Regions from separate parts of the Homo sapiens genome. Here region 1 is linked to region 2. Evidence: fine-mapped expression QTL. A gene starts in region 2. The other region holds a variant in brackets. All regions are shown on one strand. Distances are between the middles of the regions. Region 1 overlaps COQ5 (coenzyme Q5, methyltransferase). Region 2 holds the start of GATC (glutamyl-tRNA amidotransferase subunit C).

Evidence for each region.
Region 1: its variant is fine-mapped to the expression of GATC in whole blood (INTERVAL, PIP 0.99).

Annotation. Positions count from the first base shown.
Region 1 is chr12:120,514,275-120,519,274 of GRCh38, forward strand. COQ5 (coenzyme Q5, methyltransferase) reads right to left here. Exons shown (of 7, transcript NM_032314.4): 3 at 2,293-2,514. Among named protein-coding and RNA genes, the nearest start is that of COQ5, 12 kb to the right of the region's middle. The variant C/T (reference allele first, on the strand shown) is at 2,413.
Region 2 is chr12:120,444,146-120,449,652 of GRCh38, forward strand. It overlaps GATC (glutamyl-tRNA amidotransferase subunit C), which reads left to right and starts at 2,299. Exons shown (of 4, transcript NM_176818.3): 1 at 2,299-2,416; 2 at 2,512-2,684. The coding sequence starts at 2,336. TRIAP1 (TP53 regulated inhibitor of apoptosis 1) reads right to left here and starts at 2,239. Exons shown (of 2, transcript NM_016399.3): 1 at 2,081-2,239; 2 at 1-810. The coding sequence starts at 2,227. The coding sequence ends at 727. RefSeq lists enhancers at 1,421-2,268, 1,580-2,779, 1,994-2,543, 2,141-2,435, 2,269-3,114.

The DNA.
Region 1 (5,000 bases), 70 kb after region 2:
GGAGGAAGAGGAGGAAGATTTGAGCTAAAATAACCATAGACACTCATGGTGGGGGAGGAGAAGGAGAGAAATGCTGATGTTGACCTGAGGGACGTTCTTTGTTATATACCACTGCCCCTCACAGTGGCCATCTGTGGTCCCTGGCCAGCATGGAAGAGGGCAGAATAGCGGCTCTGAAAAGCTGGGCTGGGCGCAGTGGCTCACACCTATAATCCCAACACTTTGGGAGGAATGGGTGGACAGATCACATGAGACCAGGAGTTCGAGACCAGCCTGGCCAACATAGTGAAACCCCGTCTCTACTAAAAATACAAAAAAATTAGCCGGGTATGGTGCTGCGCAGCTGTAATCCCAGCTACTCGGGAGGCTGAGGCACAAGAATTGCTTGAACCCGGGAGGCAGAGGTTGTAGTGACCCGAGATCGCTCCACTGTACTCCATCCTGGGCAACAGGGCAAGACTCTGTCTCAGAAACAACAACAACAACAACAACAACAACAACAACAACAAAAACTGGGCCAACAGGGTGCAGTTGCCAGGACGGAGTTTCTCTCTTGTTGCCTAGGCTGGAGTGCAATGGCACCATCTTGGTTCACCACAACCTCCACCTTCCAGGTTCAAGCAATTCTCCTGCCTCAGCCTTCAAATAGCTGGGATTACAGGCATGTGTCACCACACCCAGCTAATTTTGTATTTTTAGTAGAGACAGGGTTTCTCCATATTGGTCAGGCTGGTCTCGAACTCCAGACCTCAGGGGATCCACCCCCCCTCGGCCTCCCAAAGTGCTGAGATTACAGGCGTGAGCCACCACGCCTGGCCAAATTTGCTTTTTTTTTGAGACAGGGTCTTACTCTGTTGCCCAGGCTGGAGTGCAGTGGCATGATCATGGCTCACTGCAGTCTCGACCTCCTGGATTCAAGTGATCCTCCTGCTTCAGCCTCCCAAGTAGCTGTTACTACAGGTGTGTACCACCACACTTGGCTAACTTAAATTTTTTGTAGAGACAGAGTCTCACTATGTTGCCTAGGCTGGTCTTGAACTCCTGGCTTCAAGCGATCCTTCACCCTCAGCGTTCCAAAGTGCTGGGATTACAGGCATGAGCCACCTCGCTGCCACAATTTACATTTTTAAGCTAGCACACAAATCATCCATTTTGAGCTTGCAGTAATCTCACAGAGATAGGCATGCAGTCATCTGCCTATCTGCTGTTCGTATTTACCACAGTGGGGAAGTGTGAGGAGTACTGTTCACGAGTGTTTCTTTGAGTGTATCAGATGGGTCCTCTGAGAAACATGCTGAGATGGACCAAGGAGTATAATAATTTTTTGTGTGTGTGGCAGGGGAAACACAGAGTAGACAAAGGGAGAGGAAGAAAGACTGAGCAAGAAAAGCCTTTAGACCTTAATGCAGATCTGACAAAGGCTCAGCCTACCCAATAGGGACCTCCAGAACAAAGGCTGGCTGTTAAAGAGTCTTGCTTGGAAAATATCCAGGCCCTAGTAGTCCCACAGTGTTCAGCCATTGGCTACGAGCTGCCACAAAAGAGCCTGGCCTCCCTTGGAAACTGAGGCAGAGGCTGATGTGCTAATAGGTGGAGGCTGCTAGCTAACTGCACTCCTTGTGGCTGAAGGGCAAGTTATTTCTTTTTTTATTGTTTAAGTTTCTTTAGAGACAGGGTCTCACTCTGTCACTCAGGCTGGAGTGCAGAGGTGCAATCATAGCTCACTGCAGCCTGGAACTCTTGGGCTCAAGTAATCCTCCTATTGTGGCCTCCCAAAGTTCTGAGATTATAGGTGTGAGCCATGGGCTCAGCCAGAAGTTCTTTCTTTACAGGAGATGAGAGGTCCAGTTGCACAGCAATCAAACTATCCTAGTATGGACAGGAGAATGGAATGGTTCAAGAATGGGAATGATACACCGAAGTCACCCTGAAGCTGCTGGGAAATGACAGCAAAACTTCTGTCTCAGGGTCTCAGAGCTGAGATCTGAAGATTCAACTCCAATTTGGGATCTGCCACTGAGAAGTTGTGTGACTTGGGTAAGATTCTTGACTTACTTGGGATCTAGTGATCCCAGTCACATAGGGCTGGGTAAGCTCACTCAATGGGCTGCTATGCATACATAATGCATATAACAGCACACAAACTAGATTCAGCCATGCAAATCATCTTCAACCTGCCCATCTATAAGTTTCTGAAAGCCAAAAGATAAAGCATTTCAATATTTTACATATTCCACCTTATTCTATAAAGATACAAATACTTCCCCTGTGTCTGCCTTCTGCAGGACTCACCAGCTCTGTATCCTTGAGCCAAGGCTTTCTGCTTTCCAACCTTTAGCATCTCCTTGTTGATGTCACACACCACGACACGAGACCCGCCCAAGGAATCTTCTTCATTCTGGTACTCTTTGG[C/T]AATTTCTTCCCAGGATAAATTTTGTTGGGCCCTTAACTGCCTCTTCTGTTTTCTCTGATGCTGGGACTGAACATAATTAAGGAACCGGAATGCAATGTCACCTGTGGGAAGCCAACATGAGGAAAGATGCAGACTAAAACAAAAATAAAAAAGGAAGAAACAGCATTTCCTAAAACCCAAAGGGGTAACAGAGGCACAGGAGTACCTGTGTTAGCTAACTGGATGCAGTGTGGCTGAAAGCCAAGTCCTTTCTTCTTTTTGTTAGAGACAGGGACTCACTCCATCACCCTAGCTGGAGTGCAGAGGCACAATCATAGCTGAGTGTGTGAACGTGGAAGTTTCTACTCATTTCAACACTAACTTTTTTTTTTAATTAAAGAAATTGGGCTGGGCTCATGCCTGCAATCTCAGCACTTTGGGAGGCTGAGACTGGGGGATCACCTGAGGTCAGGAGTCTGAGACCAGCCTGGCCAACATGGTGAAACCCCGTCTCTACATTTTTAAAAATACAAAAATTAGCCAGGTGTGGTGGCAGGCGCCTGTTATCCCAGCTACTTGGGAGCCTGCGGCAGGAGAATAGCTTAAACCTGGGAAACAGATGTTGCAGTGGGCCGAGATAGCGCCATTGCACTCCAGCCTGAGTGACAAAAGCGAAACTCCGTCTCAAAAATAAATAAATAAATAAATAAAATAAAAACTGAGGCCGGGCGCGGTGGCTCATGCCTGTAATCCCAGCACTTCGGGAGGCCGAGGCGGTTGGATCACGAGGTCAGGAGATCGAGACCATCTTGGCTAACATGATGAAACCCCGTCTCTACTAAAAAAATACAAAAAAAAAAAAAAAATTAGCCAGGCGTGGTGGTGGGTGCCTGTAGTCCCAGCTACTCAGGAGGCTGAGGCAGGAGAATGGCATGAACCCAGGAGGCAGAGCTTGCAGTGAGCCAAGATCGCGCCACTGCACTCCAGCCTGGGCGACAGAGCAAGACTACATCTCAAAAAAAAAAACCAAATCAAGTGTTTATAATACTGTGACCTGGTAAATATTGTTCAGGACAAATCCAGTGCTTTGTAGAATCCTATTTCCTTTCTTTTTTCCTCTCTTTTCTATATTTCCTTTTCTTTCTTTCTTTTTTTTTGAGATGGAGTTTCTGCTCTTGTTGCCCAGGCTGGAGTGCAATGGCGCGATCTGAGCTCACTGCAACCTCTGCCTCCCAGGTTCAAGTGATTCTCCTGCCTCAGCCTCCCAAGTGGCTGGGATCACAGGCATGTGCCACCAAACCTGGCTAATTTTGTATTTTTAGTAGAGATAGGGTTTCATCATGTTGGTCAGGCTGGTCTCGAACTCTTGACCTCAGGTGATCCACTCGCCTCGGCCTCCCAAAGTGCTGGGATTACAGGCATGAGCCATTGCGCCTGGCCCTATATTTCCTTTCTTATAATGCTGTTTCCGGCTGGGCTCGGTGGCTCACGCCTGTGATCCCAGCACTTCAGGCTTCAGGAGGCTGAGGTAGGCAGATTGCTTGAGCCCAGAGGTTTGAGACCAGCCTGGGTAACATGGTGAAACTCAGTCTCTACGAAAAAAATTACAAAAATTAGCCAGGTGTGGGGCACATGCCTGTATTCCTAGCTATTTGGGAGGCTGAGATGGGAAGATTACTTGAGGCCTGGGGGGTGGAGGTTGCAGTAAGCCGAGATGACGCCACTACACTCCAGCCTGGCGAAAGTGCAAGACCGTTTCCAAAAAAAAAAAAAAAAAAAAGCTGTTTCCTTGTCTTTGTTTTTCCTACACTATTTCCAAGAAATATATCCTTGTTTCTCCCATATGTCCAACCAATTAGGTATTCTCCAGTCATTCTCCAGTCATTTTTTATTTTATATCTTTTTTTTTTTTTCCCTGAGACGGAGGCTCGCTCTATTCCCAGGCTAGAGTGCAGTAGCACGATCTCAGCTCACTGCAACCTCCGCTTCCCAGGTTAAAGCAATTCTCCTGCCTCAGCCTCCTGAGTAGCTGGGATTACAGGCGTGTGCTACCACGCCCAGCTAATTTTTGTATTTTTAGTAGAGACAGGGTTTCACCACATTGGTCAGGCTGGTCTCAGACTCCTGACCTCGTGATCCACACGCCTCAGCCTCCCAAATGCTGGGATTACAGGCGTGAGCCAACGTGCTCGGCCATATATTTCAATATATTAATTATTTTGTGCATCTTCTCTGTATCATTCCAAATTTAGTATATGCGCTACTGAAGTGAGCACGATATTTCAATATATTTATAGGTATGCATATAACAACATTTAAAAACATAAACAGGGATATTGTATACATTGTTATACCACGTGTTTTCTTATTCTTCCCACTTAATATGTCCTTGCAACCTTTCCATCATTACTTGTAAGTTTTCCTTATTGTTTTAAATAGATAAACAATATTTCATAGACTGGATATGCCTTAATTTAAAGCCATGTCCTTATTGGGAAGAAATAGGTTATTTCCAATTTTTAATTACTATTAAATGTGATGCAATGAGCGTATATGTGACTAAATCTTTGTGGAAGTTTTTCTTTAGGCGACATAGAATTGAAAATGT
Region 2 (5,507 bases):
AGAGCTGGCAATAGCAGATCTTTGCAATTTAGGTTCTTCCTCCACAGCTATTCCAAGTATCTTAATTCCTGAACTGCACACTGAGAGCTCTGAAATGGTGTTCACTGCAACATTCTTGCAGCTTTCACATCTTAATCTGACACCTCTTGTGAAGGCAGGGAACTGTGTTAAAAGCTGTCTTCCTCTTTGCTAATCCAGGCCACCATCAATCTTAACCATTAGTTACTATATAAAAATAAAAGTGTGCTCAAAAGCACTCACTGAAACTGTTGTGCCCAGATCCCTTTTCAGAGCATTAGTTCCCTGAGAGGAAAAAAAGAGGTCCTAACCAATTGCTTTCATAAATAGTGACCCCAGTACAGTGTATATGTCTTTTGCAGCAGAAATCAAGAGGTCAGGCAGCTCTGCTCATCCTGACTAGTTTATCATCGTTTGCATACAAGGTATATTTATGTAAAGCTGATTCCACGCCAAGTATTGCAACCATAATCTCAAAAAAATTGTTCAATTTTAGCACACAGTTCCTGCAAGATACCACAGCAGGTGAGAAATCATCTCAAAGAGTTCATCTTTTACAACTGAGAGGAAAACATCGAAGGAGGAAATAAAACTCCTCTCTCCTAAGTTCCTCATCAAATCTGATGGCTATGTTCACAGAGTTAGTTGACAAAAATCCAGAGTCCTCAATTTCTGGACTTGCGAAATCCTTCAAGGTGACTGTCAAGGTCAAGAAGAATTTTCAGGCTTTTCTTTGCCATGGCCCATGAACTCCAGTCCTTCAATAGGAATCTCTTTCTCCTTTATTGCTTTCTGGTAGGAGGAGAAAACACATTATAAAGACCTACATGAAGCTTAAGTTGCAAGCTTTGTAAATAAAATATGACAGTACAAAAGTAAAATCAAGCTGATTATAAAGACTTATAACCATGATTCAAACCACATACTTTTTAAAAAACAAGTACCGGTCAGGTGTGGTGGCTCACGCCTATAATCGCAGCATTTTGGGAGACCAAGGCAGGTGGATCACTTGAGGCCAGAAGTTAGAGACCAACCTGGCCAACATGGCGAGACCCTGTTTATACTAAAAATACAAAAATTAGCTGGGCATGGTGGCGCATGCCTGTAAGCCCAGCTACTCGGGTGGCTGAGGCATGAGAATAGCTTGAACCTGGGAGGCGGAGGTTGCAGTGAGCTGAGATTGTGCCATTGCACTCCAGGCTGGGAGACAGAGTGAGACTCTGCCTCAAAAATAAATAAAAACCAGAAGTACCATAATGAATAAATCAAGTGTAAGACCTGAGGGAGACTGGAAAAGGAGTTGTGAGGGAACCGTTAAAATTAAGTGAAATTTGAAAAATAATCATCACTTTGTGTTAGTGAAAGACTTAGGTTCAAATCTGGGTTCCAGGACTTACTGGCTATGTGACTAACTGTAAATGGGATGAAGACAGCAACTACCTCGGGGAATTGCTGTGAGGATGTGTTGGGTTAACTTATTGGAAGTGCTTTGCCCGGTGCTGTTCTTAACAATTCAAAGCAGTTCCACATCCATTGGGCCAGAATAAACATTTCCTGGCTGCAGTTGCGGGGACTGGTCAAGAGAGAGAAACAGGCTAACGAAGGGTTTATAACAACAAAAAAATGTGACCCTCCAGTCTGAATTCTGAAGTATAATCCCGCCCAGACCCCAGCAGTAATAGTGGAAAAGTGCACCACCTGCGAAAGAACCAAGGAAACCTGATGCTAGTGAACTCGGATTAATCACTTCCTATTTCTGGGTGTTAGTTTTTTATGTATAAAATATGAGTAACTATGCCCACCTTGCGAGTTTAGGGTGAACACCAAATGAACCAAAGGATGTGACTGTGCTTCTTGAAAAGCACTGCCCCAATATTTGTCATTCGGAGAGACACCCAAGTGGCCTCGGTGGTGATGGTAGGGGAGCGAGCTCCTGCCACTGGCCTCACTGCGACTTTTCTCCACCCTTCCAGTCCAGTCCCAATCCCCGTAAAATACGATGAGTGTGGTGGGACACAGCGCCGAGAATGCAGGGCCTGGGAACAGAGGCGGGAGGGCTCACCTGAACACACTGCTGGTAGCGCTTGAAGAGGTCGGTGCACGGGTCCCCGGAGCTGTCCCCCTTGAGAAATTTCTCGGCGAACCAGCGATTGAAGCACTGGTCGTACTCGCGCTTCATGTCCGTGCATGCCTCCCCCACACTGTTCATGGCGACAGTGGTGGCGGCGGCGACGACGGCGCACTCTGATGTCATCACTCTCAGGCGCGTCGCTCGGCGTTACGCGCGGGCGCACTGCGGGGGCCAAGGAAGGAAGAAATGTGGTCGCGGTTGGTGTGGCTGGGCCTTCGGGCCCCTCTGGGCGGGCGCCAGGGCTTCACCTCCAAGGCGGATCCTCAGGTAAAGGCCAGGGCCATCTAGGCGGGTGGCGGAGCAAGCCGGGAGGCACTTCGGAGCGCCGGTGACCCACACTCCCCGCCTCATCCCTCCTCCAGGGCAGTGGCCGGATCACGGCTGCGGTGATCGAGCACCTGGAGCGTCTAGCGCTTGTGGACTTCGGCAGCCGCGAGGCAGTGGCGCGACTGGAGAAAGCTATCGCCTTCGCCGACCGGCTACGCGCCGTGGACACAGACGGGGTGGAGCCCATGGAATCGGTCCTGGAGGACAGGTAAACTCGCGGCTGCAGCCCCGAAGCCTTGACCGTGGCCCGTTCGCAGCCGTTTAATGTGACGATTAGCGAACAGTTTTCCAGGGGGTTAAAGAGTGTTAGCAAGATTCAGGAACTTGCCCACAGTCACCTCGCGAGTCAGTGGCTTCACTCTTCCCCTTGTTCATTACTGATGCTCTCGCTAGTGTAAGTGGAAACAAAACCCGAACTGCTAATCACTGCCTTTGTTTTTTTTTTTGTTTGTTTGTTTTGTTTTTTTTTTTTTGAGACGGAGTCTCGCTGTGTTGCCTAGGCTGGAGTGCAGTGGCTCGATCTCGGCTCACTGCAACCTCCGCCTCCCGTGTTCAAGCAATTCTCTGCCTCAGCCTCCCGAGTAGCTGGGATTACAGGCGACTGCCACCAGGCCCGGCTTATTTTTTTTGTATTTTTAGTAGAGACGTGGTTTCACCATCTTGGCCAGGTTGGTCTTGAACTCCTGACCGTGATCCACCCGCCTCGGCCTCCCAAAGTGCTGGGATTACAGGTGTGAGCCACCGCGCCTGGCCTAATCATCGCCTTTAAGGCCCTACTCCATAGAGTCCCTACCTACTCACTCCAACGTACTCTTCTCAGTACTCTCCTTGGCTACCTTGACTGCTTCTCCAGCAAGACAAGTTCTTTTCCTCTCTAGATCTCTGCACTGGCCCTTCGTTTTTTTCCTTCCTCTCAGTATTTGCATGGCTGCCTCCCTCTTGGCACAGGTCTCAGCTTATCTTCTCAGAAAGGGCTCTCCTAACCACTCCAAATCCCTTCTCCCCTTCTAGTTAGTAACTCATCCTATTGGGTTTTTTCCCTAACATTTTAATGGACTTTTGTTCATTTGTTATATCTCTTTTATTAAAATGTGAGCTCATTATGTAGTTACTGTTTTATTCCTGCCTTGAATTTTTATTTTATTTGTTTTTGAGATGGAGTCTCACTCTATCACCCAGGTTAGAGTGCAGTGGCATGATCTCAGCTCATTGTAATGTCCACCTCCCAGACTCAAGAGAGCCTCCCATCTCAGCCTCCCAAGTACAGGACCACAGGCGCGTGCCACTTGGCCTGGCTAATTTTTTGTATTTTTGATAGAGACGGGATTTTGCCATGTTCCCCAGGCTTGTCTGGACTCCTGAGCAAAGGTGATCCACCCATCTCAGCCTCCTAAAGTACTGGGATTACAGGCATGAGCCACAGCACCTGGCCGTGTTTGATTCTTTCAAATGTCTTCTCTACTTTGCAATTTTCTTTTTCCTTTGGGACGGGGTCTCACTATGTTGCCCAGGCTGGTCGCAAACTTCTAGACTCAAGAGATCCTCCTGCCTCAGCCTCCCAAATAGCTGGGACTATAGGTGTGCACCACCACACCTGGCTAATACTTAAAATTTTTGTAGAAACGGGGTCTTGCCATGTTGCCCCATATGGTCTCAAACTCCTGGTCTCAAGCAATCCTCCTGCCTCAGCCTCCCACTTCCTCAAGAAAGTTTTTTTTTTTTTTTGAGGTGGAGTCCTGCCCCATCACCCAGGCTGGAGTGCAGTGGCATGATCTTGGCTCACTGCAACCTCCACCCTCCAGGTTCAAGTGATTTTTGTGCCTCAGCCTCCGGAGTAGCTGGGATTACAGGCACCCGCCACCACACTCAGCTAGTTTTTGCATTTTTAGTAGAGACAGGGTTTCACCATGTTGACCAGGCTGGTCTCGAACCCCTGGCCTCAAGTGATCCGCCCATCTTCGCCTCCCAAAGTGCTGGGATTACAGGTATGAGTCACTGCACTGGCCAAAAAAGTCCATTCCTTTTTTTTTTTTTTTTTTTTTGAGACGGAGTTTCACTCTTCCACCCAGGCTGGAGTACAGTGGTGCAATCTCAGCTCACTGCAACCTCCACCTTCCGGTTTCAAGTGATTCTCTTGCCTCAGCCTCCCGAGTAGCTGGGACTACAGGCGCCCGCCACCACGCCCAGCTAATTTTTGTATTTTTAATAGAGACGGGGTTTCACCATGTTGGCCAGGCTGGTCTCGAACTCATGACCTCACAGTCCACCCGCCTCGGCCTCCCAAAGTGCTGGGATTATAGGCGTGAGCCACAAGTCTTCATTCTTTTATACTTAGGTTCTTTTTTTTTTTTTTTAATTGAGACAAGAGTCTCGCTCTGTCGCTGAGGCTGGAGTGCAGTGGCGTGATCTTGGCTCACTGCAAGTTCCGCCTCCTGGGTTCATGCCATTCTCCTGCCTCAGCCTCCCAAGTAGCTGGGTCTACAAGTGCCCACTACCACGCCTGGCTAATTTTTTGTATTTTTAGTAGAGATGAGGTTTCACCGTAGCCAAGATGGTCTCGATCTCCTGACCTCGTGATCTGCCCACCTCAGCCTCCCAAAGGTGCTGATTACAGGCGTGAGCCACTGTGCCTGGCTATACTTAGGTTCTCTACCTGTGGCTCTCGTGATATCCAAAAGGGCTGATTTATACATGCGTTTATACATCTATTTAAGGGATGTGTTGAGTCTCTGCCCCTCTCCTGCTCACCCACCTTCCACAGCATGTCTGTTTTTCCTTATCATGTTCTCAGTGGTTGGCACTGAGTATTCAGTAAATGTGTTTTGTTTTGTTTTGTTTTGTTTTTTTGAGATGGAGTCTCACTCTGTTGCCCACGCTGGAGGCAGTGGCGTGATCTCGGCTCACTGCAACCTCTGCCTCCTGGGTTTGAGATTCTCTTGCCTCAGCTTCCCGAGCACCCGGGATTACAGGCATGCACCACCATGCCTGGTTAATTTTTGTATTTTTAGTAGAGAGGGGTTTCACCATGTTG